Linked DNA regions of Homo sapiens. The protein of the gene in region 6 purifies or fractionates together with the protein of the main gene of each other region. This does not show direct contact. Each region holds a gene or a part of one and is shown on either strand. Other genes may lie near its edges.

Region 1 (3,500 bases), on a different chromosome or scaffold from region 6:
GAGCCTGCATGCCAGCCACCTGCCCCTCTCCGTCCACTCCTGCTTTTTGCCTGGGGTAGTCCCAGGCCCCAGGTGGCAAGTGCACTGGCTTCTTTGTAGCAGCATGACACCCTCGTAGGGGAGGCAGACCCTAGTCCCCGTGCCTGTCCTGCCTCGATGCAAATTGTCCCAAAAAGCCAAATCAAAGCCCGCCTGTGAAGATAGTTCCGCAGACAAGCATGATGAATAAGTGATGAGCGGAGGCTAATAAGATAGTTTTAAATATTAATAGTGCAGCATAACAGGAGAGCCGGCCTGGGCTCAGCGGGGGCTCCACATACAGGGCCGCTGCCACGAGCTGCAGCAGGTGGGTCAGGGGTTGAGGACGCGGCGGCTGGCACTGCCCCGGGTCAGGGTAGGAGGTCAGGCACTTCATTCTTATTTCTGCTTGGGGGTGGGGCGTCCTCAGCCAGCGGCTCCCTGAGTTCTCCAGAGAGCCAGGAAGAGCAACCGAGCAGGCGAGAGTGTGCAGAGGGGAGCAGGGGCTCCAGCCCAGTTTTCTTCCTGATGCTGAACACTCAGGTCCTGTCCAGTGCTGAGCTCAGCCTCCTCTTCAATAGAAGCTGGGGCACAGGCGGTCTTCCTGGTTGTTGGTCTAGGCTGGATGGAGGGCCCAGCCAAATTTCTCTCCCCTACTCACTTTGTAAAGGAGGAGGGAGATACCCCAGCGCCCCTGGGCAGGGGCTCTGCTATTGTTCTCTGTGTCTTAGAGAGCTCAGGCCTGTGTGTGCCTGTCTCCTCCCAGGAGATGGACTCAGATGGCCACAGCATGGGGGAGTGCATGTGCACAAGCAGCCCTGTGTTGCCGTGGACACAGCCCCAGGCCTGTGTGATGAATGGTTCCCTGCCAGGGGGAGGAGGGAGGTCTTGTCAGCCCAGGGGACCACCCAGCTACTGGGAGCCATGGATCCCAGGGAAGCCTGGTGTCTGCGGTCCTGCAAAGCCCCAGGACTGGGTTAATGTTGGTTTCCACCTCGGTTGAAAGGAACTGGCCTTCAGGGTGTTCAGGTGCCAGCAGGCCTGGCCTGATAGGTGCTCTGCACACATGAGGCCCTGCGGGCATGTCCACTGGACAGATGAAGGCTCTTTGTCTGGCTGAATACAACCATTTCTCCATCAGGGTACTACTACGACCTCGATGACTCTTACGACGAGAGCGATGAGGAGGAGGTCAGGGCCCACCTCCGTTGCGTGGCCGAGCAGCCGCCCCTCAAACTGGACACGTCCTCTGAGGTACTGGGCTCTCCTCCCCACGGACATGCTCTGGGCTGGGCTCTCGTTCCTAGCGTCCACACCCTGCAGTCCACCCCACTGTTGCTAGGTTCCTCCGAAGTCCTGGCGGGTTCGCCCCATGAAGCTCTTCTCCCACCAGGCGCAGCCAGCTACGGCCCACACTTCGAGGACCCCAGGAGGGGACCCCGGGACAGTGCAAGCATACCACTGCCAGTGGCTTCAAACTCATTTGTTTTCTTTCCCAATCTAGAAGCTAGAGTTTTTGCAACTTTTTGGCTTGACCACCCAACAGCAGAAGGAGGAATTGGTGGCCCAGAAGCGGAGGAAGCGGCGGAGGATGCTGCGAGAGAGAAGCCCGTCGCCCCCAACAATTCAGAGCAAGCGGCAGACGCCTTCACCGAGACTGGCGCTGTCTACCCGCTACAGCCCTGATGAGATGAACAACAGTCCCAACTTCGAAGAAAAGAAGAAGTTCCTGACCATCTTCAACCTGACCCACATCAGCGCTGAGAAGAGGAAAGGTAGGGCCTCGCCTGGGTAGGAAGGTGGGGGCTCACTGGGGTGGAAGTGGGTTTCTGAAGCAGCAGGTGGGGCCGGTGGACTCCAGGCAGGATCTGCGATCACTGAGCCTGAGGCTGCCCCTTTACTCCTCCCGGCTCCCGGGAACAGCCTCTCTGTTCTTACAAGCCCTCCATAGCAGCCTTACCTGACAGGCTTTGCTCTGAGAGCCCCACCATCTTGACCTGAGGACTACCCATGTCACTCATCCATCTCCCAGCGCCCGAGAAGGCGCTCTTTGAGCCGAGTGCTCCAGTGACCACCAGGCGTGAGGGGAGGTGCCAGGTGTTCCAGGTTTGTCTGCTGCAGGCTTTTCCTCTTGCTGGACCGCTTAGGTGGTCTGCTGGGTGTTGTGTCCTGGTGGCCGGAGGCCTGGGGAAGGGCTGCCAAGCAGGGCAGCACACACTGAGCAGATGGCTTGCCTTGAAAGATGCTTCCAGTTCAGTCTGGCCACACAGGGCCACATTGGGACAGACCCTCTGGGCTCGAATCCATATAGCAGAAGAAACAACGCAGCCACAACACCTGCTCAGGGTTTTGGCTTCCTTGGCCTGCAGCGCAGGCTGGCTTGGTGCCCAGATGTTGACGTTCCTGGCCCTGCCCCTTACGCACGCTTTCAAGTCCTCGTGGGCCCCTGGCCTCCTCTCTGGGAGAAAGTCGAAGGAAAGCAGAGTTACTTCTTGGACCTTGAGCAGCTTCAAGGTGTTGATCAGGGTGTAGCCGTTTACTTTCTCCTTTTAACCAGTCAGTAGTTTTCCCTTTCTCTTAGCGGGCTAGTGACGTGTTGATTGCCAGCCCAGTTCCCTAGATACAAAGCATCTTTTTCCCTGAATTTTTGGAGGAAAAAAAATTAAGGGCGATGCAGCCCTTGAGTTTCACAGTCAAGAAGGGCCGGGTGACATCAGGGATCTGCTGCGTGGAACATCGTGGGGTCATCTTTCCCCTTCAGGAAGTGGCAGTAATGGTAGGAGTGGGGGAGAAGGCACCCTGCCTCAGAGGCCAGGCCTGGGTCTTTGGGGTGTTTCTTTGTGTTGGGGCCACCTTGTCTGACTTGAAATAAGAATACATCCTCGCACGTCACCACCGAGGTCCGTGGGCACAGTGATTCACAGAGGCGTCGTCACCGCACGGACAGCTGTCTTTGGAGCACGTCTAGGACATTGTGTAGTGGATGCCGAGAGCAATCTGGGCTCGCTTTGAGATGGTTGCTTCCTTTCAACTGGGCCTGCCCCATCACACCTGCTTTTGGTTTTTCGGGCTTTAGTGCTTTGCCTGCCCCTCAAGGCTCGGCTAGAATCCCGCTGTCCTTCTCTCCAAAAAATGATGCAACTGGCTCGTTAATCTCAGGCTGCTTTTCTCATAGACAAAGAGAGACTTGTTGAAATGCTCCGTGCCATGAAGCAGAAGGCACTGTCAGCAGCAGTGGCCGACTCCTTGACAAACTCTCCGAGGGACAGTCCTGCCGTCTCCCTGAGTGGTAAGGGAAGGATAGCCCCACCTGCCACCACCCAGGACCATCCCATGGGCTGCCCAGGCTCAGAGGCGACCACTCGAGGTCTTCATCATTGTGAATGTGGCCTCCTGCAGGCTGTCTTCTTCCATTCTTGTACCAGCGTACGATTCTTGCACAGTTGTGACAGTCATTGGGACGGAACGTCAGTTTGAAGGCG
Region 2 (4,276 bases), on a different chromosome or scaffold from region 6:
TTTCCACTTGGGCTCGCCATCAGCCTCATGGAGACTTTCTCCAGAGCAGCACTGCAGGCTCTTCCTACCATCCTCCTTTCTCTACCCGCTCCTTGCCCAGGCATCAACCTGCACCACCAATCTTGCTCCCTCTCCCCTTATCTTTCTAAGGCATTTCCCTCAATAAATCTCTTACACTTCAACTTCCATCTTAGCATATGTCTTCCAGAAGACCTGAACTGACACAGAGCCCACCAGTAAATCCTGAAAACTTGCTGCAAAAACATCCTGGCAGAGAGGAAAGGGCCAGTTTCTCATCCACCTGGGAATTTTGCTATTGTCAATTACATCATCCACAGTGATACTGAGGCCTTGGGGAAATAAGAACCATAATGGTTTGCATTTTAAATGCCTTTAGGGCAGAGTTACAGAGTAATATATTCTGACATAACAAGAGAAAAAAAGGGTCACAAAAAGTCAGGGGCATATTCTCTGAGTAACAGCCATGAGAAATCTCCATCCCTGTAGAAAGAAACAGAGACATCTCTATTTTTATTTTGTTTTGTTTTTGAGAGAGGGTCTTACTCTGTCACCCAGGCTGGAGTGCAGTGGTGGGATCTCGGCTCACTGCAGCCTCGACCTCCAGGGTTCAAGCAATCTTTCCACCTCAGCTCCTGAGTAGCTGGGACTACAGGCACCTGCCACCATGCTCGACTGATTTTTATATTTTTTGTAGATACAGGGTCATGCCCAGCCAATTTATGTATTTTTTTTTGTAGAGACAGGGTTTCACCATGTTGCCCAAGCTGGTCTTGAACTCCTGGGCTCAAGCGATCTGCCTGCCTTGGCCTCCCAAAGTGCTGGGATTACAGGCATAAGCCACTGTGCCTGGCTGAGATAACTCTATTTAATGACTTCTAGTACTACTGCAAGGAAAGTCAAGTCTCGGGAGGGCAGCTCTTGGGACTGGCTGTAAGAACACGTACCTGATAATTTCTGAGCCAGGTTTCAGACAGCCTGAGGTTGATGACCCCTCCCCTCTCCCGCAGTTTTGTGTAGCATTCCAACAGAGGCTGCAGACAACAACAGAATTCTGTTAAGAACTACTTCCTGGGATGCAGTTTAAGAATCAACATTCAGACATAAGAATTCCTGCCCATTCCATTCCAGTATTACCTCTTTGTACTGACAGTAGACCACAAACGGCCTTGAAGGGGCCACAAAGTCCAGCAAAGACAGCAGCAGGGGAGTGGGGTGGAAACGACTAGCTACAATTAAACTGTAAGGAAAATGCCAGACAAATTATTTCTCTACACCCTCAAAGTGGAGCACAGGTTTTAAAATGCATTTAAAATGATCATGTATTTAATTTGCATGACTCACAAAGAGAAGAGATTTAAATATAACATTCTAGAAATCCAAAACAGAATACAATCATGAGCTATTTCTTTCTAGGAAACGCGAACTAGGTTAGAAGCTCTTGTGGTACTTGGCAACTCTAAGTCGCATTTAATGACATTCTTGATTTTTTAAAAAAAATCACCTGGAAACAAATCCAACACTGCATAAGCTGCTTTGTGGATATCTGTTATAGCCTGTATCGCAGCATTTGAGTGCCCCATCCCCTGCATCCAGTGGGACCACAGGGCCCATCTTGATGCAGTGATGGAGAAGATTCAATTTCTTCTGAAACCCTGAAACCAGCATCATCAATTCCCCACCCCTGCCAGCCTCAGCCTCCTTTCTTTAAAAAAACCCCCAAGACAAAATCCTCATCTCGGGTCCCACTAGAGTCAAAGCAGACAAGGAGAAAGAGAATGCCAATCTGTCTGAAGCAGAGCCCACATGCACTGAGGAGTCTCCTGCCTTCTTCCATCAACGCACCCATCTGCGTTTCTTTCACTCAGCAGAGCGGCAGCCTCTAAATGTCTTTTCCTCTGCTCTTCTTGTCTCCTCTGTTTTTCCTGAATCTTCAAAAAGAAAAATAAGAAATCAATGTACTGGGGTCTTTCAGTCAAATTTATGGAAATGCTCTGGCCTGTCAAAACATTTCAACAATATTTATCAACTTGGACTAAACCAATAGAAGCAGGTTGTTTATAAGGAAGTTGCAAATACACAAGAAAGCCTATATACTATAAAAACCATGATTAAGCTATCTATGCAACGCTTCTGTATCCTAAAGCTCCATCCCGAAGACCGAATCACACGTTTGTATACATGTACACACACTCGTTCTCTGTTTTGATAGTTATCATCTTGGGAGCTAATACACCAAAGCCAAACTAAATCTCATGACTTAACTGAAGTTAACTGAGGGACTGAGATTATGGGGGTGGTGGGGACTCTTGGCATCCTTACATAATCTTTTTTGCTTCCTCTCTCTTTAGGCCCCTTATGTTCTGGATCTTGAGAAATTGTTTCCATTGTTTCCTGGTCTTCTGGGTGGTTGCTCTCTGGGGCCTCTGCCATGCTGTCTTCATTCTCTTGTTCAGAAGCCTGTTTTTCCTCCAGTGTGCCATTACTTTCTTCAACCAAAGCACTGTCTTTTGGCTCTGAAGATAACATCTTGGCAGAAAATGTTCCATGTAGAAGACTGTCCACTTTGTTGAGAGGGAATTCATAAAGACCACTGAGAAAAGATTTGGGAAATCCAAAACATGCTGTTGCTGCCCGAACAGGTCCTCCTCCAGGGTATAGCTGAATAATGGAGCCAAAACCTGAACAGATAAAAGAAACAAACATCTGCCCGTGGAGTGACTCTAGACTACGTAAACCCTCAGTGAGTCCTCCACAGTAATGAGACTGAAGGTCTTTCTATTAGTACTTTATTCAGAGGCTGAAGGATGGTGCAGCTCCTCAGGGAGTCTGTTTGGAGTCTATGAGTATTACCAATGGAGGTAATATAATTCTAAAGCAGATAGCAGGAAGACTCAAAGAAGCTTATCCCCACTTGATACTATTGTAAAACCCTGTGTCTGCAAATTTGGATGTCACATGATTGGTGACGGACTCTGCTTCCCCTCACTCCGATCCTCAAATGGAGCAGTTACAAGTTCTTACCTTCTATGGGGTCAGAAAAAAACCAGACAAATCAGGCTGTGTTGTATTCTTCCAGAGAGAATACATGCTTAGTAATCTTCCCACTCAATCCCTTCAATTTAGGCCCAATGAAATGAGCACCAGCTACCCAGGAGTTTACTAAAATCACTGTCCCGAAAGCCCTAGCCAGCCACAGGCTCCAGCATCATGCCCACTGACAGTGAAGCTAGAAAGGACAATTGCCATGGGTTTGGGGGTACCCATGGGTGGGGGGCTGGGTGATGGAGACTGTGTAAGAAGGTCCCCATGCTAGGAGCCGTGCAGGTTCACCCAAGTCACTTTGTTAACCCTGAAGTAATTCAATTTGGCTTTCCATGAGTTTACATTTTTGGACCACCTTTACTCACATCAGGGTGGGGTTTTGTTGAAAATGGAAATATTAAATCTTACCTCCCATTCGTTCCATCATTGCACCCAGCACCAAGCCTGCACACGTTTCCATCACAATCATTTTGTTGCCAGCACGGATATTTCCCAACGTCAACATCTGGGCTAGTGTATCGTATCTCATGTGGCTAAAGTAAAAACAATAATTTGTTCATTTTTAGCTAAGTAAAGCCTATTATTTTAATCATCATTTTTCAAGTTTTGTTTGCTTTATTAAAATTGTGTTGATAAGATTATTGATTGCTTTGGAGGTGACAGTAAAAGGACTTACAATTTATGAGGTAGGAGGATACTTTATGCAGGTGAGCAAGCTTTTTCATTTTACTTAAAATCATGACTTTCTTAAAGACATATTTCCCCCAATTATACTTTTGAAAGGAAACAAAGCGTACTTAATTTTTCCAGGTTCTCTTGCATAATACATAATTGAAAGAATACGGGTGGATGGCTTCACAACAGTAATGATGGCTTCATATCTGGGGGAAGAAAAAACAGAACGCTGATTTAAAAAAATGACTTAAAATATTTTATTTGTAATAAAATGTATATTTTATAAACATATAAGAAGTTTAATATTGTGGGCCTTTTAAAATAAAAACTACTTACTTTTTTTTCTTCTTTTTAATATATTTATCTTGGGCAAATTCTGTCTTGTCTCGGAATGTTGTACTATTTTCAATTAACTGCTGAACTATTTCCTATAAGAAAAGGAGCAAGTAGATTTTCTGAAACTTTACTTTCACAAAACAAGTAATTTCCAAAGGCTTCTTACCCAAGAATGGATCCAATGGTCTGATTCTCCAATCCC
Region 3 (3,950 bases), on a different chromosome or scaffold from region 6:
TGGTGTGCAATGACGTGATCTTGGCTCACTGCAACCTCTGCCTCCTGGGTTCAAGCAATTCTCCTGCCTTAGCATCCCGAGTAGCTGGGATTACAGGCGTCTGCCACCACGCCCAGCTAATTTTTTTTTTTTTTTTTCTGAGACGGAGTCTTGCTCTGTCACCCAGGCTGGAGTGCAATGGTGCGATCTCGGCTCACTGCAACCTCTGCCTCCCAGGTTCAAGCAATTCCTGTATCTCAGCCTCCCGAGTAGCTGGAATTACAGGCACGCGCCACCACACCCAGCTAATTTTTGGGTTTTTTGGGTTTTTTTTTTAAATGGAGTCTCGCTGTGTCACCCAGGCTGCAGTGCAGTGGTGCGATTTCAGCTCACTGCAACCTCAGCCTCCCGGGTTCATACGATTCTCTTACCTCAGCCTCCTGAGTAGCTGGGATTACAGGCATGTGCCACCATGCCCAGCTAATTTTTGTATTTTTAGTAAAGACGGAGTTTCACCATGTTGGCCAGGCTGGTCTCGAACTCCTGACCTTAGGTGATCCACCTGCCTCAGCCTCCAAAAATGCCGGCATTACAGACGTGAGCCACCGCACCTGGCCTTTTTTGGTATTTTTAGTAGAGATGGTGTTTCACCATGTTGGCCGGGATGGTCTCGATCTCCTGACCTCACGATCCACCCGCCTCAGCCTCCCAAAGTGCTGGGATTACAGGAGTGAGTCACCATGCCCGGCCCAATTTTTATATTTTTAGCAGAGATGGGATTTAACCATGTTGGCCAGGCTGGTCTTGAACTCCTGACCTCAGGTGATCTGCCTGCCTCAGCCTCCCAAAGTGCTGGGATTACAGGCATGAGCCACCGCACCCGGCTAATTTTTTTATTTTTTGTAGAGACAGGGTCTCTACAAAACTCTACCTAAACTTCTGGGCTCAAGCAATCCTCCCATCTCAGCGTCCCAAAGTGCTAGGATTACAGGCATGAGCCACTGCAGCTAGCCACCAGACCTGTATTCTAATGCTCTATTTCTTTTAGTTGGTATTCCAATTCGTTTCCAAATCTCTGGTTATCTTTCATAGTTAAAGGGCAGTCAATATGTATTTCTGGAGAATTTACAATGTGAAAGCCACCAATTTAAAACAACATAGTGAAACATAAGGATGGATAAAGATTTGGTCACTTTCCTCAAGAACTTTTGGGAAATATGTGGGATACATACAGGAAAAATGAACTAATTTTATATAGACATGCATAACAAATGTCAATCAAATGATGAAGATAGCCACTGAAACTAGATAACGGTACATTCGGGTTGTCAGGAAAGACATAAACTAGGCCTTGACCGCTGGACAGGATTGGGATGCAAAAGACAAGAATTTCAAAAGAAGCCTTTTTTAAAATACCTGCTTGGTTTTCTGCTTACACTCTAGGTAACTTCAGTAGTCAAATTCACAGAGCGAAAGTAGAATGGTAGTTGCCGGGAGTGGAAGGAGAGAGGAATGAGAAGTGAGTGTTTAATGGGCACAGAGTTTCAGTCTGGGACAATGAAAAGTTCTGGAGATGGATGATGGTGACAGCTGCAAAACGATGTAAATATACTTAATGTCACAGAGCTATATACTTAAAAATGGTTAAAATGATAAACGTTATGTGTATTTTAGCACAATAAAAGTGTTAGCTGAAATGGCAAGTTTACCTTAGTGATAAGGTCAGAGAGGTAGATTCTGCTTTCTAAGGCTATACAAAATAAGTCTCATTCTTTTGTCGAATGTCAGCCTTCGAATACTGCCACCTTAGCCTCTTCAGCTGATTTCTTTTTTCCAGGTCAAATGTCTCCAGTAATAATTTTACCTGGGCATTTTTTCAGCACCTTGTGATCCTCTGAGTGTTTCAGGATGTTTTTTCTTTTCCTTTTTTTTTTTTTTTTTTTTTGGAGGGCAGGGGGCTGGGAGGAGGAAAGACTACAACTCCTCTACAGGCTCCTTGAGAGCAGAGACCATTTCTTTACTTATTTAGTTTAACCTCCTTGGTACTCAGCAAAGAGTATGGTACAAATTAGGTTCAATAAACACCTGCGGATTGAATGAAAATACTGACAGTAAAGGCTATTAATAATGCAACCCACACGATCTCCATCACTGACAAATCCTGGCAAGTCTCAGTGACACTTTTCCTTAAGCCTCTACAGACTAGTTATTGAGGTCTGTAAACCTAAGATCGCTTTCCCCAGGATTCTTGCACAGGGGACGGGGTGACAGAAGCAACACATATTCAAAGCAATCATTTTTTCTTAATCATCTTCTAAGAGGGCCAATGAAAACGAAATGGCAAGCGTCACTGCTTCAGGAGAGAAAGAACAGATTCCATGGTGATGGGAGCTTGAGTCTGCCCATCTGAGATTCAGGCGCCAACGGGAAGGGCTGAGGGGCCACGCGGAGGAGAGGCCCAAAGCCCAGGGCCATCTTTCTCCAGGTCGGGAGGGTGGAGGTGGAAACGGTCCCTGAGCGACCCCAGAGGGCCGAGGGCGGCGCGAAGGGAGGCCCTCGGATGCTCCGGCCCGGTTCTGACAGGCCATCATCAGGGACAGACAGTTCCCCTCCCCGCCCAAGCCGGCGCAGCCCAAAAGGAGGCGCGGCCCATGCTCAGCGCACCTTTTGCCTCTCCTTCTTCTGGCTCTCGGACTCCTCCAAGGGTGCTTCCAGCTCCATAATGTCCCCCCAGAGGAGTTTCCCAGGCATTACTGGCCACCGCCGCCTCCCTCCGGGCACAGTGGCCACAACCACCTACGGGCAGCGACAGCGTGAAAGGAAGCGGGGGCAAGGCGGCCGCCCGGCCTTGGCCATGCGTCACTTCCGGGACACGCACCGCACGGCGGGGAAAAATAATCCCGGATACTCTCGGTTTAAGACCTTCCATTGCGCCGCAACCTCTCAACCAATGAGTGTGAGAGATATCAACGGGCCCGCCCTTGTTCTGAAGTGATTGGTTACTAGAGTAAAACCCTGGCCAATCTCCATAAAGGAAGCATGCACTGATTAACATAAATAGTTCGGTTTATCTTCCCCTCCCCCACTCCGAACGGGTCTCCTCGGCCTCGCAGAGCCTTTTGGGGGCTTCCCAGTACGCACTGCTAGGGCTGGGAAGCCCTTCAACGGCGGTAGACAGGGTCCGGCGCGCGCTGGGCGGGTGCGTGGGCAGGCCCATGCCGAGGCCAGTGGGCAACGCCGCGCGCCGCCTCGCCATTTGCAGCCGGAAGCTGAAGCCCTCCATCCCGCCCATTGCGGGGGAGATGTTAACGACCAACAGCTTCGCGCGAGGCCACAGGCCTGGCGTCGGTGGAGAGGGGCTTCGCGCAGTTTGGGGTGGGCCAGATGGGCCGGAGGTGTAGCCAGGAACGGACAGATGTCCGTCTCTTAAGTCTTAGGTTTTAATCGTGAAGCTGATCCCTGGTTCATTGTGATCCTTCTCACGCTGTCCATTTGACATAAGAAACCCGAGAAAGGAATGTACTTGTCTGAAGTCCCACAGTCTGTTAGTGGCACAGTCAGGACTAGAGAATTTAGCTCCTGAAGCCGAGATCAATGCTCTTTCTGCCACATCAGCCTGAGAACTTTGAGTTTTGCAGTGTTTTGGGGAAGATGCTCCCGTGAAACAATGAACAGGAAAAACCTGAAGAAGCCTCACATTTTCTGCTAGCGAGAAAAGCCAAAATGTCTTCCACAGATTATCTATTTGCAATGAATAAAAAAGGATTTAATTTTAGTGATGGAGATTAACTGCCCGTGAATCACCACCTTACACAAAACTGAAACCTTTGACAATACAAAGGGTAACTTCCTTAGTGTTTCTATACCTTTGCTTACTATCACCGAGGCTAGTTGGCTTTTCACAGCCATTTCTTCATCTCTTCATGATCCTTGCGACCCAGCTACTCTACCCAATGGAGACACAGGGCTAC
Region 4 (4,276 bases), on a different chromosome or scaffold from region 6:
ATGAATTTGAAGTTGAAAGCATTGTGAATATTAATTTTAAGTGTGTTGGCATAATGTTCAAAATTTTCCATAACAAAGGTGGTAAAATGGCAGGAAGTGAGAAATGAAGAAACTGCTAGTGAAATCTTAAGATCCCAGGACCTTTATAACATGAAAAACATGCAAACATAATACCTAGATTTCATTCCTATAAACAATTGTTTAAAGCTAGACAGAATGTATCTTTCCTACTCTTGTCACCACTAGCTTTTTTTTTTTTTTTTTTTTTTTTTTCTGAGAGGGAGTCCCTCTCTGTTGCCCAGGGTGGAGTACAGTGGCACGATCTCAGCTCACTGCAACCTCTGTCTCCCAGGTTCAAGCAATTCTCCTGCCTCAGCCTCCCAAGTCACTGGGATTACAGGTGCCCACCACCATGCCTGGCTAATTTTCTGTATTTTTTTAGTAGAGACGGGGTTTCGCCATGTTGGCCAGGCTGGTCTTGAACTCCTGACCTCAGGTGATCCACCTGCCTTGGCCTCCCAAAGTGCTGGGATTACAGGCTTGAGCCACCGTGCCCAGCCTCCACTAGTTTTTTAAATCTTTGAACACAAAAATGACTTGGTGCCCAGTAGAAAAGCTAAGCAGTTCACAGCTTAAGAGGGAAATCTGACACCCGAGCTCCTGTATTCATAACGGTGGCCGCCTAGTAAGGGGGCTGGGCTGTGTGAACCACCTGCCAATGGCAGCTGAGCAAGAAAGACACTGAAAAGCTATGTAATTTCAGAGCACTTAATTTCTACTTGTATTTTTCTTCCTAACAAAAGAAAGCAAAGTTTCCCAGAATAATTTGAAAATGAACAACAAAATTATCAATCGAAAGTCCCAAGTTTCAACATGCAAAGCTCTACCTCGAGCCAGTTCCTAGGGGATTTCAATGGAAACTAATGTATGAACAAGAAAGGCTGGTTCCAGAAGGAATCTTAGCCATATTTCGCAGTGGCTTTCTCTCAAATTTGCTGGCTTCCCATATGCTTTAACTGTTACTGGGCTGCTGCAGGAAAACAAAACTTAATGACACACAATCCCAACATGCACAAGGCATAACAGATATAAACATAAGTCCACAGATGACAGCATAAAGACTTAGGACATTATCATCCTATCTTATTCAATCTCCAACTTAACTGCAGTTACATGAGATCAGTTACCTAAGCTATACGTCTCAATATCTGCCAGTTAGATGGGTAAAGTGGAGACGCTTGGCTCCCATTACCATGGTACAAAGATCCCTCTCCTCCAAAGTCTTGACTCTCCTCAGACTGGTAATCTTTTCTCTTCTTTGCCAGAGCAGTCCAAATCAAGCTAATTATGTAAGGGCAGAGGACAGCACCACATAGGTGCATTAACACACTGCCCCTTGGTACAGATTCTCAGAGCACAAAATAAGAAACATTAAAGCAATTCAATGAAACTGTTCAGTCTCTGAAAGGTAACAGAGAAATTCTACTTAATGGAAGAGTGGTAATAAAAACCATCAGCGCTCTTCCATTACTGAGCACATTTCACGGCATGGAGAGGATCCTTCTGGGGGCTTGGGTGTACTTAAGCTGCTCCAAGGATAGCTCAAAGGATTAAAATCATAAGGATCTGATTACCCTTTCACTGAAAGGGTCTAATTTGTTCAAGCTGAGTGTCATTCTGTCATTTCTCATAAATTAAAGGAGAAACAAAATTATTGTTTCTATCTTAGTTTTCACATGAGATATAGACACTTTCTTGAGAGTAATACTCGCTAACTCTTGGGTCTAGTGGGCTGGCTTTCGATTTGAGAGGAGCAAGAATATTCTTCACTTTGGTTTCCATTCTATATATTGAGTGGAGGTTAAGAGAAAAGAGGCCCTTTTGAACTGAACCTATTTTGCTGTGATCTAGGCTCAGGGCCAGAATTTCAAAGAGTGTGATATGTGCTTCTCTCAAGAGACTTTTACTTTGGGAAATGCTCTTAACATTGTGTACCAGCCTGAAGTGCCCCACTGCTATGCAGAATGGCTTTCAGGTCAGCATTTCTTTAGCTCTAATATGCCCTCTCCAGTACCTGCCTTGGTAACAATGACTTAGGGATCCAAGTTTCATTTAGGAATACAATAGGTTTCTTTACTATACACAAACCAAATAGTTTACTTAACTGGCAACACATTTTGCTGACACCTTGGGCAACGAGGCCCATTTTTACTTTCAACGCTGTAATTTATGCTATGTAGCATGGCACTGTGCTGTCAAGAATGTTAGACTATGACACAGAAGGCCTGGGTTTCTGTCACAATTCTGCCTCTAATTTAATTCAGTAAGTGATTCTGGGTAAATTCTTTCCATTCTATATACTGTCTTAGGCAAGTCACTTTCCTCACTGGCAAAATGAGGTGGTCAGTTGAGAGGATCACTGAGTCTCAGTGTTTTACTCCTCATAGGATAAGTAAAGGGAAATAAGTATGTATTTAGGATCTATGGTCTTTAGACACTGCAAGATATTTGCTCTTTTATTAAAAACTTACTCATACCTCTGCTCAAGCCATTTTACCCACCCTGAGATGCCCACAAAACCTAGGTCATTTTTAAGTCCTGATTCAATTACTCCTTTCCATGGGCTCCTTCTGCGGCTGCTTTTCACCCATAGTGCTATTTTTCTGAACTTCTATTATACTAAGAAGTTATATGTAAGAAAATTACTGGGTAACAGTGTTTAAAAACAGTTTTAAAACTTTCAAATCAGTTCTTTTATACTGCAATTGTTCTAAAATTATCTAATTTAGGAAACATATTATTCAGTGAAAAATAAAAATGGATGAAGTAAGGGACATTAATTGGGTCAACACGCTTACTAAAGGAGCTTTATCCTGCTGTGGCCATACCAACACATGGATTTACAGAACCTACTGTATAACCTTTTAAGAAACAACTGCTGGCTCTCCATCTACTCACTCCTTTTTTTTGTTTGGTTTAACATGTGTCTAATCCTGTAACAGGGAAATACAGAGACTCACTTCTTTTTGCAAATCACAGAAATTACAGAAATTCATATCACACTAATGTATCTGAATAAACACCTTCACTTCTCAAATAATCAGCAGCAGGTTCTATGATACAGACTAAATCTACATCTTTTCTGACTGCAACTATCAAGTTTACTGAAGACAAAAATGCTACATATAGTTTGGCCAGCAAAATTCATAGTGATGAAATGAGTCAGATGACTGACACCTATTCAGATGACTGACTAGAAAATGTGAGATCTAATGTTTCAGGTTACTGTCCAAATTCTCTTTGGTAACTGTTAAGGATAGAGAAGCTATAAAATAGAGAAAAAAAGAAGCACAGGAATTTCATGATATTGATAGCTGGGCACACAGGCAAAGAAAGAGAGAAGTAATTATACAAATGTCTGCTAATATGAAAAGTTTACAATATTATTATGATTTAAAATACAAAGAATACATACAAAGTTTCTCCAGCAAAACAACATAACATTTCATCCTAATTAGAGCATAGAATGTCATATATAATTACATTTATATAGGATTTATCTGAAGAATAAAATGTAAATATTTACTATGCTTCTCACTTTATAATTCATAGATGGTAATAACGTCTATTTGACCTGTGAATCTGAATCTTTTCTCTATGTTTTAAGGTAACCAACATTTCCTTGATTTAGTAAAAAACCAAACACATGTAAAAGAGTACATCAGAAAATTCTTTTTGTTCAAATTCTCAGTTATTTCAGGTCAACTTTGAATAGATTCCATAAAATAATCATTTGTGGAATACCTTCTCAAGGCAAAGGTATCATGATAGGTGGTATGGGGTTGGATATAAAGATGGAAACTAGACTGTGTATGTCCACAAAGACATTACAACCAAAGAGTGTGAGCCCTTGAATTACCTCAAAACCCCTAGGTCAGATCAGCTAAGCACATAACACAAGTATAGAGAGCCATGAGGGTTAAAGGAAGTTAGAGGAAACAAGAAAAGTTTGAAGGAGAAAACAGAATTTGAAACAACACACACACCTAAATCCCATACACACACAGAAACACAGGCCTAAATCCTAACAATGGGGCTGAACCAAGTGGGAGGAAAGAAGCCAGTACACAAACATGTGCTAGTGAAGTGAGGGAATAGGAAAGGAGGTGTGAGAACTGAGATACTGGGCCGGGCGTGGTGGCTCACGCCTGTAATCCCAGCATTTTGGGAGGCCAAGGCGGGTGGATCATGAGGTCAGGAGATCGAGACCATCCTG
Region 5 (4,276 bases), on a different chromosome or scaffold from region 6:
TTTTTGTATTTTTTAGTAGAGACGGGGTTTCACCGTTTTAGCCGGGATGGTCTCGATCTCCTGACCTCGTGATCCGCCCGCCTCGGCCTCCCAAAGTGCTGGGATTACAGGCGTGAGCCACCGCGCCTGGCCTCATTTTAAAACTAATTCCTAATTCACTATCCCCTGGATCTGCCAGGACAACACAGGCTCTTTAGAGGCCCTAAAGCTGAACTGCCAACATTTTCTGAAGCCCTGGACCCACTTCTGCCTAGTAAATTTTCTGGCTTCAGGACAGGACAACCTCTCTGCCTGTGCTATGGCCATGCAACACCAACAGCATCTGGAGAAGAAGGGAGACCAGGCTGGGCACGCATAGGGCAAGAGAGTGGTTCACAGTCAGACTTCTAACTCCAGCCAAAAAAAAAAAGTGGCAGAGGGGAAGAGTGCCGATGGAATGAAAAAAGAATGGCAAAACATCAGTAATTCTTGAAACTGAGGTTCATTATATTCTTTTTTTGTTTACACTTGAACACTGCCATGATAAAAAGTTAAAAAATAAAACAGCACGGTCTCTGGAGCCAGACTGCCTAGGTTCAAATCATAACTTTAACACTTTCCAGCAGTGTGATCTTGGGGAAGTTATTTAGCCTATCTGTACCTTGGTTTCCTCAGCTGAAGGATGGGAAAACAGTACCGGACTCATATGATTGTCTGTATGAAGATTAAGTGAATTAATAATATATCAAGTACTTAAACTGTGCCCAGCACATAGTGAACACTCAATACATGGCAGCTATTATCATCGTGATTATTTCCCATTTCTTCTGAAGCACCTGGTAAGTCTGCAGATTCCTAGAAATATCCTCAACCCATGCCAAAAGGCAGGAGGATAAACTGAAGTGGGATGTGAACAACATCCCTCAGCTCTCGTGCCAGCCCCACCAGTAGCCAGCTCTGTAAGCATGAAGAGTCACATTCACTTTCCGAGTCCCAGGCTCCTCATCCAATAGCAAATAGGTCTCTAAAGTGCTGTCTAGCTCCATCAGTCTGTTTTAAGGCAGATTAGAATAAGGTTCTCAGGGGCTCCAGAATACTAGACAATTTCCCTGCCCAACCAAATACAACCTGAGTCTTAAAGGACACTCTGTGAAGGTACTGGAGAGAGCCCATCTCTGAAACTACGTTATTAAATCACACTGTCTGCCTGTTCTAAGCATAGCACTCAGAACAGAGGTGTGAGCAGGTGAGCACAGTACCTTCAACATGGCAGGCTTTCATCCAGTGTTTTTTGATGGAATCACATAATGAGGGAATTCAAGCAAAGCCTGATGAGCTGGTCCATGTCTCCTCTGATCCCTGTCAGCCCTGACCTGCGCTGGCTCTTCACAAATGGTTAGGAAGGAGACTAGAACAGAAATTATATCCAACCCCCAACACTATAAAAAAGAACATGGTGTTCCCCTACTGAGGGGACTATGAGTTGTGCATCTTTATGTGCAAATAATTCATTATCATCAATATGCATTGGAAATATCTGTTCCCCCAACAAATGTGGGATGCCCACTAAGTGGTAGGCAACAGGCAAGATGCCAGAGATGAAATAATGGCTAGGATCCTTGCCCTCAAGGTTACACCCTAGGGTGGGGGGACTGGGTGTTAGCAGTGGTTGACATTCAACCGGACACTTGTGATGGACCAATAACTATACAAAGGACTTCAGACACATCATCTCATTACACCCTCACCATAATCTCATGAGTTGGTATCTCCCAGTGATCTCCATTTTACTAATGAGGAAACTGGTAAGTGGTAGGCTCAAACGTTAAAATCCCAAAATGCTTGATTTCAGAACCTGAGCTCTCAACCAGTATGTGATATGCTCAGGCAGGGGCACTGACTTCAAAGTGCCCTGAGTACCTGGAAGAGAGACTGCCAACTCCTGAAGCCCTGACTCCTTAGCCAGAGAATCTAGACAAGAAAACAAAGAAATATGACCAGGGAGCTCACTCTTCCACAAATAGGTCCTAGTCTCATTAAACTGTCCCTACCAGGCCTAAGCCTACTCCTACCATTGCTTTATATCACGCTGGATCTGCCAGGGCAACACAGGCTCTTCAGAGGGCCTAGAGATGAACTGCCAACACTTTCTGAAGCCCAGGACCCACTTGTGCCTGCTGAATCCTCTGGGTAAGGACAGGCCTGCCTCTCTGCCTGTGCTACAGTCATTCAGAAGATTTGAGCCATTCTCCAATAACAAGAACATCTGGAGAACAAGAGACAGGTGGGCACCCAACTCCAGCTACACAACTTATGGTCTGTGTGTGACCTTGAATGAGTTACACAGCCAGTCCTCAGCTGCCCCATCTGCAAAATGGTACTACTAAATGATACCTGCCTCAGAGGGTGGCTGGGAGAACAGAAATCATGGCTATAAAGCATTTAATAGCATGGCTGACCCATAGTGAACAGTAATTATGAATACTGTAAGTATACTTCCCTGCTATGAACCAAACTCCACCCCCCAACAAGTAACCAAGAGTTATAAAAGGGTTCAAACTTAGGCTGTCAGAGAACCAAACACAACTGGTTCCTCAATGCAAAATAATTTATTTACTGGCCACCCCAAAGATACAGACAGAGTGGCCACATTCTATGGCAAATCTAACACTGTTCTGGCCATGTTCTGAGTCTCAAGTCAATGGAACATTTATTGGGCACCTACTATGTACTAGGCTAAATAGTGGAGTGGTTAATAGTGTTCCAGGAGTTAGACAACAGTTTGGATCCTAGCCCAGCCACTAACTAGCTATATCACCGCTCAGTTACTTAGCCTCTCACTTTTCTCATCTGTCAAAGAGGGCTGATAATAGTACTTACCTCTTGGGGTTGTTGTGAGAGTCAGCAGATGATGCATTTTCAAATGCTTTGCATAGTGCCTGGCACGTAATAAGTGCACCATAAATATGACACATTAAATTATAGTTTGATTACACTACTAAATTAAAAGAAAAGTGGTCAGCCAGGCGCAGTGGCTCACATCTGTAATCCCAGCACTTTGAGAGGCCAAGGCAGGAGGACTGCTTGAGCCCAGGAGTTTGAGACCAGCCTGAGCAACACAGCAAGACCCTGTCTCTACCAAAAATTTTAAAAATAAATAAATAGCTGGACGTGCTTGTGCATGCCTGTGGTCCCAGCTACTTGTGAGGCTGAGGCAAGAGGAACACTTGAGGCCAGGAGTTCAAGGCTGCAGTGAGCTATGATCACACCACTACGCTCCAGCCTGGTGACAGAGTGAGACCCTGTCTCTACGAAATATAAAATATGAAATAAAAAACAGAGAAGTCACTATTTCAATTATTTTAGAGCCATGAGGATTCTTAAAAGTCTGGATGGAGCCCTCTTCTCATTGTGTGGGTGGGAAAACTGAGCCCCAAAGAAGAAAGTGATCTATATACATAGCTGTGATGGAGAAGGGGTGAGAAGCAAAAAGAAGGGACTAAGTGAGGGGCAGGGAGAAGCACAGAGAATTAACCTGGATTCAAGACCTTCCCTATTTTGGCCTCAACTTCCAACCCACCCTCTCTCACAATTTCCTACATGTGACTCTGCCATTGGCAGGGTAGCCACCTCCTCTCTCTCAAACATGCTCAAAATAGTGCCCCTGCCACGGTGTTCATCACAGTCCTTCTCTCAACATTTATCGATCACCAGCTAGATGGCTGGCACTACCCTGGCCACCGGGATACAGGCGAAATTCCACACCCTCCCTCTTCTGAACTTTCACAGGAGTTACCCTCAACTGACACCTCCTTATGCGCTGCACAAGTGATTCGTGTCTTTTGCTCCTTCATACCCTCCCACAAAGCCTACACAGAGCCATGCAACTGTCAGACTTTAATAAATATTATGATTGACTAGTAAGTAGGAGGATGAAAGAGAAGAAACAGAGGCTAGTCATTATACTCCAGCAGTATGTCTATTTTTTAAGAATGGTTTGACATTCAGGATAGGCAAAGCAGCACTGCCTACTTAATTCCCTTAGAAAAGTCACCTCCCTTGGCCTGCAGCGTTTAGCAGGCTGACTCATTCCAGTTGCTCTGCCAGTCTTTTTTTTTTTTTTTTTTTTTTTTGAGACGGAGTCTCACTCTGTTGCCCCGGCTGGGGTGCACTGGCAGGATTTCCGCTCACTGCAACCTCCACCTCCCGGGTTCAAGCAATTCTCCTGCCTCAACCTCCTGAGTAGCTGGGACTACAGGCATGTGCCACCACACCCCGCTAATTTTTGTATTTTTAG
Region 6 (4,276 bases):
AGGAAGTAATGCAGAAAAGAGAATAAATTGAAATAAGAAAAAGCAATGGTGTTACTTCATGAAAGGAAAGGAGACACTATCTGACTTGTTTAAGAATGTTAAATGTACAAAGATAACATCTTGGGAAATGCAGAATTAAAGAGATGGGCAAACAGAAGACTGAGAAGCATCAGAAATAAATCTGTGGCTGGGCACGGTAGCTCACACCTGTAAGCCCAGCACTTTGGGAGGCTGAGGCAGGAGCAGTGCTTGAGGCCAGGAGTTTGAGACCAGCATCAGAAACATTGCGAGACTCCAACTCTTTAAAAAGAAACAAAAACAAAACCAAAAAAACCTGTAGAAGTGATGTCACAAAAGCCAAGAAAGGAGAGAATTTTAATTAAGAGAAAGCCCAAAGTCACAGAGAGTAAGACTGGTGAGCCAACAAACGGATGGGAGAAAACGAACTAGGCAGAGCTGACTTTTGCAAGAGGCTTGGTTGGGAAAGGTTGGGGGTGGGGGGAGAGGAGGGAGGCAGCGGCAGCCCAGCTAGATGTGGTAACCAGTGGCATAAGGTATCACAGCCACATCACCTTTAAATTTATATTTTATTAAAACACACAATTACCTTTTCACTATTAAAAATCAATAATTTAATTCTGGTGACTACTCATTGTGAATGCTGACTTTCATTTAGGAAGGTCTGCTAATAACCTATTCTCAGACAGCTGTTCTTCAAGTGACTTCCTGGTACTGAGAACATGTCAATCTGAACCTACAATTTTTCACCCAGAAAAATCTTAAGTATACACATTTGAAAACAGCTACAAAGGAAATATACAGATTTTCTGAGACAAATGGAGTGTCCCTCTGTCACCCAGGCTGGAGTGCAGTGACGTGATCTCAGCTCACTGCAACCTCTGCCTCCAGGATTCAAGCAATTCTCCTGCCTCAGCCTCCCGAGTAGCTGGGACTACAGGCACCTGCCACCATGCCCAGCTGATTTTTGTATTTTTAGTAGAGATGGGGTTATCACCATGTTGGCCAGGCTGGTCTCGAACTCCTGACCTCGTGATCCGCCCACCCTGGCCTCCCAAAGTGCTGGGATTACAAGCGTGAGCCACCGTGCCCAGCTGGAAATATACAGATTTTCAAAAGGAAAAAGGTTTAAGATTATAAAGAGGAAAAATCTAAAAATAATGTCATAAGTTAAATCTCACCTGAAAAATGTGCGGTGCTTCCTTTGCCTGATGCTAAATTGTGGATATTCATTCCATGGCTGGGGCTCATACTTGGACTACTAAAAGGTCGAGGACTAACAGGATAACTGTCTTGAGACTTTGGACTTCGGCCTCCCAAACATCGTACTTCACTATCTGTACCATTCACCATTTCTATAAACTGACGCACTCTAAAGGAGAAAAGAAAAATTTACTTAGACACAATCTTCAAATGGCCTTTTATTTAATAGCAACAGATTTCTAAAAATATTTTTAAAACTTTGATTTATCAGTAGGATTGGTCTTTAGTAAGCTAAAAATATTAAATATGGTGTCCTATGCTTTAATGCTTAGAATTTTAGAATTTCCAGAAAAATGAGAGTACAATGTAATAGACACTATAATAATATTACCCCCTTTAATCAGGATTTACCAAATGGAAATTTACCTATAAGAAGATATGAACCCCATTTTTTTGGCTACAAGTAATTTAATCAAAATAACATTTGCGCTTGGTAGCAAATCAAATTGTGCCTAAGGACATGATTTTATGTATATGAGATACATATAAAGCGTAGCCTTTCTCCCCACCCGTCCCATTCCCAACCTCTTAACCAAAATGGGCCTCATTTAAAATTCTTATTCTAAAGCAAAACAATTCTGTCATTTGACTTACAAAGGATATCTGTTGCTTAACAAGTTGAAATCTGAAGCTCAGTAACATCTCATTTTTTAAGTAACAAAGATTCATAAAACCAATTAAAATTGTCAAATCAGGATGGCTATTATTAAAAAAAAATAGTTAAACATAGAATTACCATATGATCCAGAAAGTTCACTTCTGGGTATATAACCAAAAAAATCTAATGCAGGGACTCAGATATTTGTACACCTATGTTCACAGCAGAATTATTCATAACAGCCAAGAGGTAGAAGCAAACTTTAAGTGTCCATCAGTGGATGAATGGATAAACAAAATGCAGTATTATCCAAACAATGGAGTAAAATTCAGCCTTTAAAAGGAAGAAAATTCTGATACATACTACAATAAAGATGAACCTTAAGGCTATTACACTAAAATAAGCCAGTAATGAAGAATAAATACTCTGATTCTACTTATATGGGTAGTCAAATTCATAGAGGCAAAATGTAGAATGGTGGTTTCCAGGGGCTAGGGGGATGAATGGATGGTTAGTGTTTAATAGAGAGTTTCAGTTTGGGAAGATGGAGAAGTTCTGGAGTCGGATGGTGGTGATGGTTGCACAATGATGTGAATGTAAAAAATGGTAAATTTTATGTATATTTTACCACAATTTTTTAAAATGCCAGAGAGATTAAATGTAAGGTACTTCTGAGAAGGAAAAATAGACACCCATCTTCTAAATAAGATTTTCACATTTTTAAACACATAAATAGAATAATAAAAGCAAATACATAGCAAAAGACACCTTCTGCTTATGGTCCTTAACACAAAAGTATTTTTCATAACATGTTGCTTAAATGACATTACAAAATTGTATATACTTGAAAAACGAAAAAAACTAAAATTACAAAAGCACGAAAATGTCTTTTATTACATAACTTGACAAATATTTATAATATATAACAAATATAGCATTTTATTATGCAAACTCACTTTAATGTGAAAAGGAGATTAGGATTTCTTTCAAGTAAACTTGGGTATAACTGTTGTGTTGTTTCAATGGCTTCTCCCATTCTTCCTGCTAATACCAATTTCTGAATTCCTATTCAGTAAAAGAAAGCAAACGATTAACTTTTACAAAAGTAGATAAAACATAAACTTAGTGACCTCAGAAAAGAAAGTTAGTAAGAAATCTTTAAATAAATTATGATTAATTTCAATTTCTTTCTCTAACATCATAGTTTCCATTAGGCAATCCAGGAAACATTTCAGACATACTAGAAAATTAGAAAAACAAGTACGGTCACAAATTTTTTTTTTAAAATCACGAACATACGAGTAATATAGTTAAAATACCTATTATGCAATATTGAAGTTTCAAACACTGAGATTAAAAAGACTGTTTTAAAGGGATACTAAAATGCCTTATCAAACATAATCTTCTGAACAAAGGACTGAAAAATGCTAGCTTTTGACTAAGATTCCAATTTAACAGAGACTCGTTGAGCATTCACTTGATCTGTTATATGTTAAATTAGATGATAAGGATACAAAATGAGTAAGTGATCTCTGTTCAACAGAGCTTATTAAAATAGTAGAAAAGGACAGCACACAATTAACTACAACCCAATGTAATCAGTGCTATTACAGCAATTTGACCTATGAAATAGTTGTTTTCACCCATTAATTTCACCCATCTATTTTGTTTTCATCTCTATACTCTTGTCAAGTCATACCCACCCTGATGGACAAACAGCACCAATTTTAGGATGGCTAACTATGGACCAGTTATGCTGACTTGCCATTGTTATACAGGACCTGTTTTATCTCTGGCCACAGAGGCCAGCACTAGGATCTAAATAATAAATACTTATGGATCAATACTGTATTAGCCATTTAAATTCAAAGATATTTACATTTCTTTCACATACTATCTCCTCCAACTAATCAGGACTACTTTATTATTATTTTTAAATCTTTTTATTAAATGTTTATTTCCTGAAAGCTTAAGAAAACATTTAAGAAAAAAATGGTAAAGACATTCCTTCAAAAAACTTCTGTAAAATCTCTCTAGAATTAGAATTCTGACATAGTCCTATGTGAATTTTTAAACTGATCTTCAAAAATGTCAGTGAAAATAAAATTCAGAGGCATCCATTTTAAATTAATATATTTGAAATTTTTTTAATTAAAAAAACAAAATTTCTAAAAATTAAAGTAACCAAATCTATAATCTGAAAACAAATGTTAGCCATGCACCACAGTGTCCTTACTTTGTCTATTCTTAATGGAAGCTAATTCTTCTAGAACGGTCTGGTCTGTAGATCTGGCAAAGGCCTCTGCTGTGGCACAGTACCCATGGTGGACTAAATAAGATGAAACCATTCTTAAAATAAAAAGAAGAAACATACATCTTTTAGTGAAGAGAATACAT
Region 7 (4,276 bases), on a different chromosome or scaffold from region 6:
ATTGGAAGTCAAAAAGTGTTCAAAAAGTTTGGACTCTCCTCTCAGCTGTGCCATAAGCTCAACATAATCAGTACACTACGTGAGATGGAGCTGGCCTAAGGAGCCCCACTTCCTGTGACTGGAGAACCAGTAATTCAAACTTTCATGAGCAAAAAGACAAAGCAACAATCTCCGAGTGGCTTCAATACTACTTGCAAAGATAGCCAATGACAGTCTTCTGTGGCGGAGAAGTAGGGAGTGATGGGGTGAGTGAAAAGTCCAGAAGGTTGAGGGGGCCAGGTGTGACCTGTAGTCCCAGTACTCTGGAAGCTAAGGTGGGAGAATCACTTGAGCCTAGGAGCTATTTGAGGCCGCAGTGGGCTATGATCACACCACTGCATACTAGCCTGGGTGACAGGGTGAGACCCTGTCTCTTAAAAACACCAACAAGGTCAGGCGCGGTGGCTCACGCCTGCAATCTCAGCACTTTGGGAAGCCGAGGCGGGCGGATCACGAGGTCAGGAGATCGAGACCATCCTGGCCAACATGGTGAAATCCCATCTCTACTAAAAATACAAAAATTAGCCAGGTGTTACAGCCGGGCACGGTGGCTCACGCCTGTAATCCCAGCACTTTGGGAGGCCGAGGTGGGTGGATCATGAGGTCAGGAGATTGAGACCATCCTGGCTAACATGGTGAAACCTCATCTCTACTTTAAAAAAAAAAAAAGTACAAAAAATTAGCTGGGCATGGTGGTGGGCGCCTGAAGTCCCAGCTACTCGGGAGGCTGAGGCAGGAGAATGGTGTGAACCCGGGAGGCAGAGCTTGCAGTGAGCTGAGATCGCGCCACTGCACTCCAGCCTGGGCGACAGAGCGAGACCCTGTCTCAAAAAAAAAAAAAAAAAAATTAGCCGGGTGTGCTGGCACATGCCTGTAGTACCAGCTACTTGGGAGGCTAAGGCAGAATTGCTTGAACCTGGGAAGCGGAGGTTGCAGTGAGCTGAGATTGTGCCACTGTACTCCAGCCTGGGCAACAGAGCAAGACTCCGTCTCAAAAAAACAAAAAGACACAACAAAAAGAAGGTGGAGAAAAAAGGCAGCCGCACATGGGATATCAGAAACCAAAGCAAAACTCATACTGAAATGGTAATCAGAAGCAATGAGTAGCTCACTGTAGTATCAACAGGGGCAACCAGCCCCCAAGGACAAGGTCTAGGCTGGAGCTCTGTCAGCAGGTAGTTACACTCACTAATTACTAAACGTTCATATTTTGGCATTTCCTGCTTAGCTGGGAGACTGGGAAATAATCCTACCTGGCTGGCCTTGCTCCCTGAGAAAGACTTCCTAGTGCTATTGCAGGAAGTGTCAGCACACATGGTGACCGGAAGCTCCCACCTTTCCTACAGGTTGTTTCCTATGGCTGAAGTCCCTGTAAGCTGCCAAAGAGCAAAAACTATTTTTTCTCTCTTTTCTTTCCCAGCAGGCCTGGACAGACAGTCCCATTGCGTGGACGAAAAAAGGCCTGGGATGTCACTGAATTTAGCAGCCAGATCATAGCAGTAAGGAGTCCTGATCCCCTCCCAGACCCATAAATGAGGAGCCAAAGGCAGACCCAGTCCCTTCCTCCTGGCTAGGCTGAGGGTCTTTCACCAAGTTGTGAATTGGGAAGGGAGTCCAAAAAAGGAGTTAATGTCTTAGAGCTTTCAGTGAAAGGTGTATAAAGCAAAGCTGCCTTCAGGTTCAGCATAGGGTGGAGAGAAAGCCTCCTCCCTGGAGTGAAGGACCAGCTCAGAGACCCATTCAGTGTTTGGGGAGAAGGGGGTTGTTGACAGATAGTTGTCTTCCAAACTTTCGCCTCAACGAACACAGCCCCAAAGGAGGCAGACCTTTGTATTGCCAACTTCCCAAAGAGCACACAAGAAAATAGGCCAAGGCTGCCCAAAACCAGCTTGACTGGTTCTACAGAGAAGCCCCTGGTCTGCTCCGCCTTCCTCATGTTAAAAAGAAAAAGGCCAAAAAGGTGGCTGGGAGCCAGTCACTGAACACAGCCCTCCTCTCTTTCTGCCAGGCACCAGTTGTCCCTCAGGATCACCTAGCCACCAGTATCAGTGTCCATCTCCCCTCCTCTCCTACCAAATCTTCTGTTCATTTAGTTTTATAAGCCTAAAATTAATGATTTGGTGTAAAAAGGAAATGAATTTACTTTTGCCCTTTTTGCCATTTTCTAATGAGAAATGTAAGGAATAACTGCAAGTAGGGGGAAATAAGTGCCAACCCAAAGACAGACATCTGCGGAAAGAACCACCACAGGGACTGACAAACCTTATTTATCTTGAGATGGGGTCTCACTCTGTTGCCCAGGCTGGAATGCAGTGGCATGATCACAGCTCACTGCAGCCTCAACTTCCCAGGCTCAAGTGATCCTCACATCTCAGCCTTCTGAGTAGGTGGGATACACGCATGTGCTACCACACCCAGGTAACTTTTTAAAAATTTTTTTGGGCTGGGCGCGGTGGCTCCCGCCTGTAATCCCAGCACTTTGGGAGGCCGAGGTGGGTGGATCACGAGGTCAGAAGATCGAGACCATCCTGGCTAACAAGGTGAAACCCCGTCTCTACTGAAAATACAAAAAAATTAGCCGGGTGTGGTGGCGGGCACCTGTAGTCCCAGCTACTCGGGAGGCTGAGGCAGGAGAATGGCGTGAATCCGGGAGGCGGACCTTGCAGTGAGCCGAGATCGTGCCACTGCACTCCAGCCTGGGCGACAGGGCAAGACAACGTCTCAAAAAAAAAAAAAAAATTTTTTTTGGCCAGGCGGGGTGACTCATGCCTATAATCCTAGCACTTTGGGAGGCTGAGGCAGATCACGAGGTCATGAGTTCAAGGCCAGCCTGACCAACATGGTGAAACCCCATCTCTACTAAAAATACAAAAATTAGCGGGGTACAGTGGCGTACACCTGTAATCTCAGCTATTCAAGAGGCTGAGACAGGAGAATCACTTGAATCCGGGAGGCGGAGGTTGCAGTGAGCTGAGATCGCACCACTGCACTCCAGCCTGGGCAACAGAGCAAGACTCCGTCTCAAAAAAAAAATTTTTTTTTTGTAGAAATGAGGTCTCACTATGTTGCTCAGGCTGGTCTTGAACTCCTGGGCTCAAGTGATCCTCCTGCCGTGGCCTCCCGAAGTGCTGGGATTACAGATATGAGCCACCACACCTAGCTTGAGAAACTTGAAACATTCCAGACAAAAACAGATATGAAGATAAAGGGATCTAGCCTATTTATACTTATCAGAGGAGGAGATGTCTAGAGGGCAAGAGGAGGAACTGGGATGCCTCCTCCTCTGAGACACAACTGGAAATCAAGAGGCCAGATTCTCTCTGGGTGCTGTTTAGAATCAGCTGTACTATCTCAGTCTAAAAGATAAGCAATGATGCCGGGCGCGGTGGCTCACTCCTGTAATCCCAGTACTTTGAGAGGCCACGGCAGGCGGATCACTTGAGTCCAGGAGTTCAAGACCAGCCTGGCCAACATGGTGAAACCCTATCTCTACTAAAAATACAAAAAGTGGCCAGGCATGGAGGTGCGCACCTGTAATCCTGGTTATTTGGAAGACTGAGGCATGAGAATCGCTTGAACCCAGTAGGTGGAGGTTGCAGTGAGCTGAGATCCTGCCACTGCACTCCAGCCTGGGTGACCAGAGCAAGACTGTCTCAAAAAAAAAGACGAGCAATGACCTTCAATGGCCTATAACAAAAAGGAAGGGGGCGGGTGGCAGTAACATTCTGCTCAGGAGTTAGCACTTTCAGGGTTAACCTGGGGATAGCCTGGCTCTCCAGCAGTGGGAAGAGGGTGACTTCCTCCCCCACAGGTTTGTAAAGGCTTACTCTTCCCTTTGCAGAGACAGAAGGGAGAAAATGCATAGACAACACTTCAGTGACTCACTCATGTTTGATGAAAGCTGGGAGGAGGCCTGGAGAATCCAAGCTACAAGCACAAAACGTACAAATACTGGAATCTCCCATCAAGAGAAGGAAATTTAGCCACCTATCTGGTTTGTCATTTTGCTGAACTTCCACTGAAGGAGGAAGGGCCAGCTTTAAACTCCACCCACCCTTTCCACATCCTTCTCAATTTTTGCTTTGATGGGAAAGTGGGGAAACTGGCGGCCCCACCATGGCTAAAAGAGAATCAAATCCTTTCTATACTTCCTCTCAAAGCAGAGGCCTAGTAGCTCCAGTCCACAGCTTAACCAAGCAGAGGGAATAGGGGCTTGTCCTGGTTACTGTAGGAAAGC

The links.
Region 1: the proteins of RANBP9 (region 6) and GSE1 purify together in Homo sapiens (affinity purification with mass spectrometry, with the first as the bait; 2 studies listed by BioGRID). This does not show direct contact.
Region 2: the proteins of RANBP9 (region 6) and TRMT6 purify together in Homo sapiens (affinity purification with mass spectrometry, with the first as the bait; one large-scale study listed by BioGRID). This does not show direct contact.
Region 3: the proteins of RANBP9 (region 6) and DDX50 purify together in Homo sapiens (affinity purification with mass spectrometry; 2 studies listed by BioGRID and IntAct, with this or other methods). This does not show direct contact.
Region 4: the proteins of RANBP9 (region 6) and HMG20A purify together in Homo sapiens (affinity purification with mass spectrometry, with the first as the bait; 2 studies listed by BioGRID). This does not show direct contact.
Region 5: the proteins of RANBP9 (region 6) and CKAP4 purify together in Homo sapiens (affinity purification with mass spectrometry, with the first as the bait; 2 studies listed by BioGRID). This does not show direct contact.
Region 7: the proteins of RANBP9 (region 6) and MARK2 purify together in Homo sapiens (affinity purification with mass spectrometry, with the first as the bait; 2 studies listed by BioGRID). This does not show direct contact.

What each region holds. Positions count from the first base shown.
Region 1 is NC_000016.10:85,661,822-85,665,321, forward strand, and holds part of GSE1 (genetic suppressor element 1), read left to right. Parts: intron 1-1,159; coding exon 1,160-1,272; intron 1,273-1,522; coding exon 1,523-1,793; intron 1,794-3,193; coding exon 3,194-3,307; intron 3,308-3,500.
Region 2 is NC_000020.11:5,940,088-5,944,363, forward strand, and holds part of TRMT6 (tRNA (adenine(58)-N(1))-methyltransferase non-catalytic subunit TRM6), read right to left. Parts: intron 4,167-4,276; coding exon 4,075-4,166; intron 3,945-4,074; coding exon 3,861-3,944; intron 3,597-3,860; coding exon 3,472-3,596; intron 2,700-3,471; coding exon 2,341-2,699; intron 1,950-2,340; coding exon 1,864-1,949; intron 1,259-1,863; coding exon 1,156-1,258; intron 1,053-1,155; coding exon 966-1,052; intron 1-965. UniProt on the Homo sapiens protein: Substrate-binding subunit of tRNA (adenine-N(1)-)-methyltransferase, which catalyzes the formation of N(1)-methyladenine at position 58 (m1A58) in initiator methionyl-tRNA.
Region 3 is NC_000010.11:68,900,165-68,904,114, reverse strand, and holds the start of DDX50 (ATP-dependent RNA helicase DDX50), read right to left. Parts: upstream 2,801-3,950; 5' UTR 2,731-2,800; coding exon 2,644-2,730; intron 2,060-2,643; exon of another isoform or gene 1,689-2,059; intron 1-1,688. UniProt on the Homo sapiens protein: ATP-dependent RNA helicase that may play a role in various aspects of RNA metabolism including pre-mRNA splicing or ribosomal RNA production.
Region 4 is NC_000015.10:77,472,484-77,476,759, reverse strand, and holds part of HMG20A (high mobility group protein 20A), read right to left. Parts: intron 1-4,276. UniProt on the Homo sapiens protein: Plays a role in neuronal differentiation as chromatin-associated protein. Acts as inhibitor of HMG20B. Overcomes the repressive effects of the neuronal silencer REST and induces the activation of neuronal-specific genes.
Region 5 is NC_000012.12:106,241,501-106,245,776, forward strand, and holds part of CKAP4 (cytoskeleton-associated protein 4), read right to left. Parts: intron 1-4,276. UniProt on the Homo sapiens protein: Mediates the anchoring of the endoplasmic reticulum to microtubules. High-affinity epithelial cell surface receptor for the FZD8-related low molecular weight sialoglycopeptide APF/antiproliferative factor.
Region 6 is NC_000006.12:13,638,364-13,642,639, forward strand, and holds part of RANBP9 (ran-binding protein 9), read right to left. Parts: intron 4,229-4,276; coding exon 4,116-4,228; intron 2,945-4,115; coding exon 2,836-2,944; intron 1,391-2,835; coding exon 1,200-1,390; intron 1-1,199. UniProt on the Homo sapiens protein: May act as scaffolding protein, and as adapter protein to couple membrane receptors to intracellular signaling pathways. Acts as a mediator of cell spreading and actin cytoskeleton rearrangement.
Region 7 is NC_000011.10:63,845,160-63,849,435, reverse strand, and holds part of MARK2 (serine/threonine-protein kinase MARK2), read right to left. Parts: intron 1-4,276. UniProt on the Homo sapiens protein: Serine/threonine-protein kinase. Involved in cell polarity and microtubule dynamics regulation. Phosphorylates CRTC2/TORC2, DCX, HDAC7, KIF13B, MAP2, MAP4 and RAB11FIP2. Phosphorylates the microtubule-associated protein MAPT/TAU.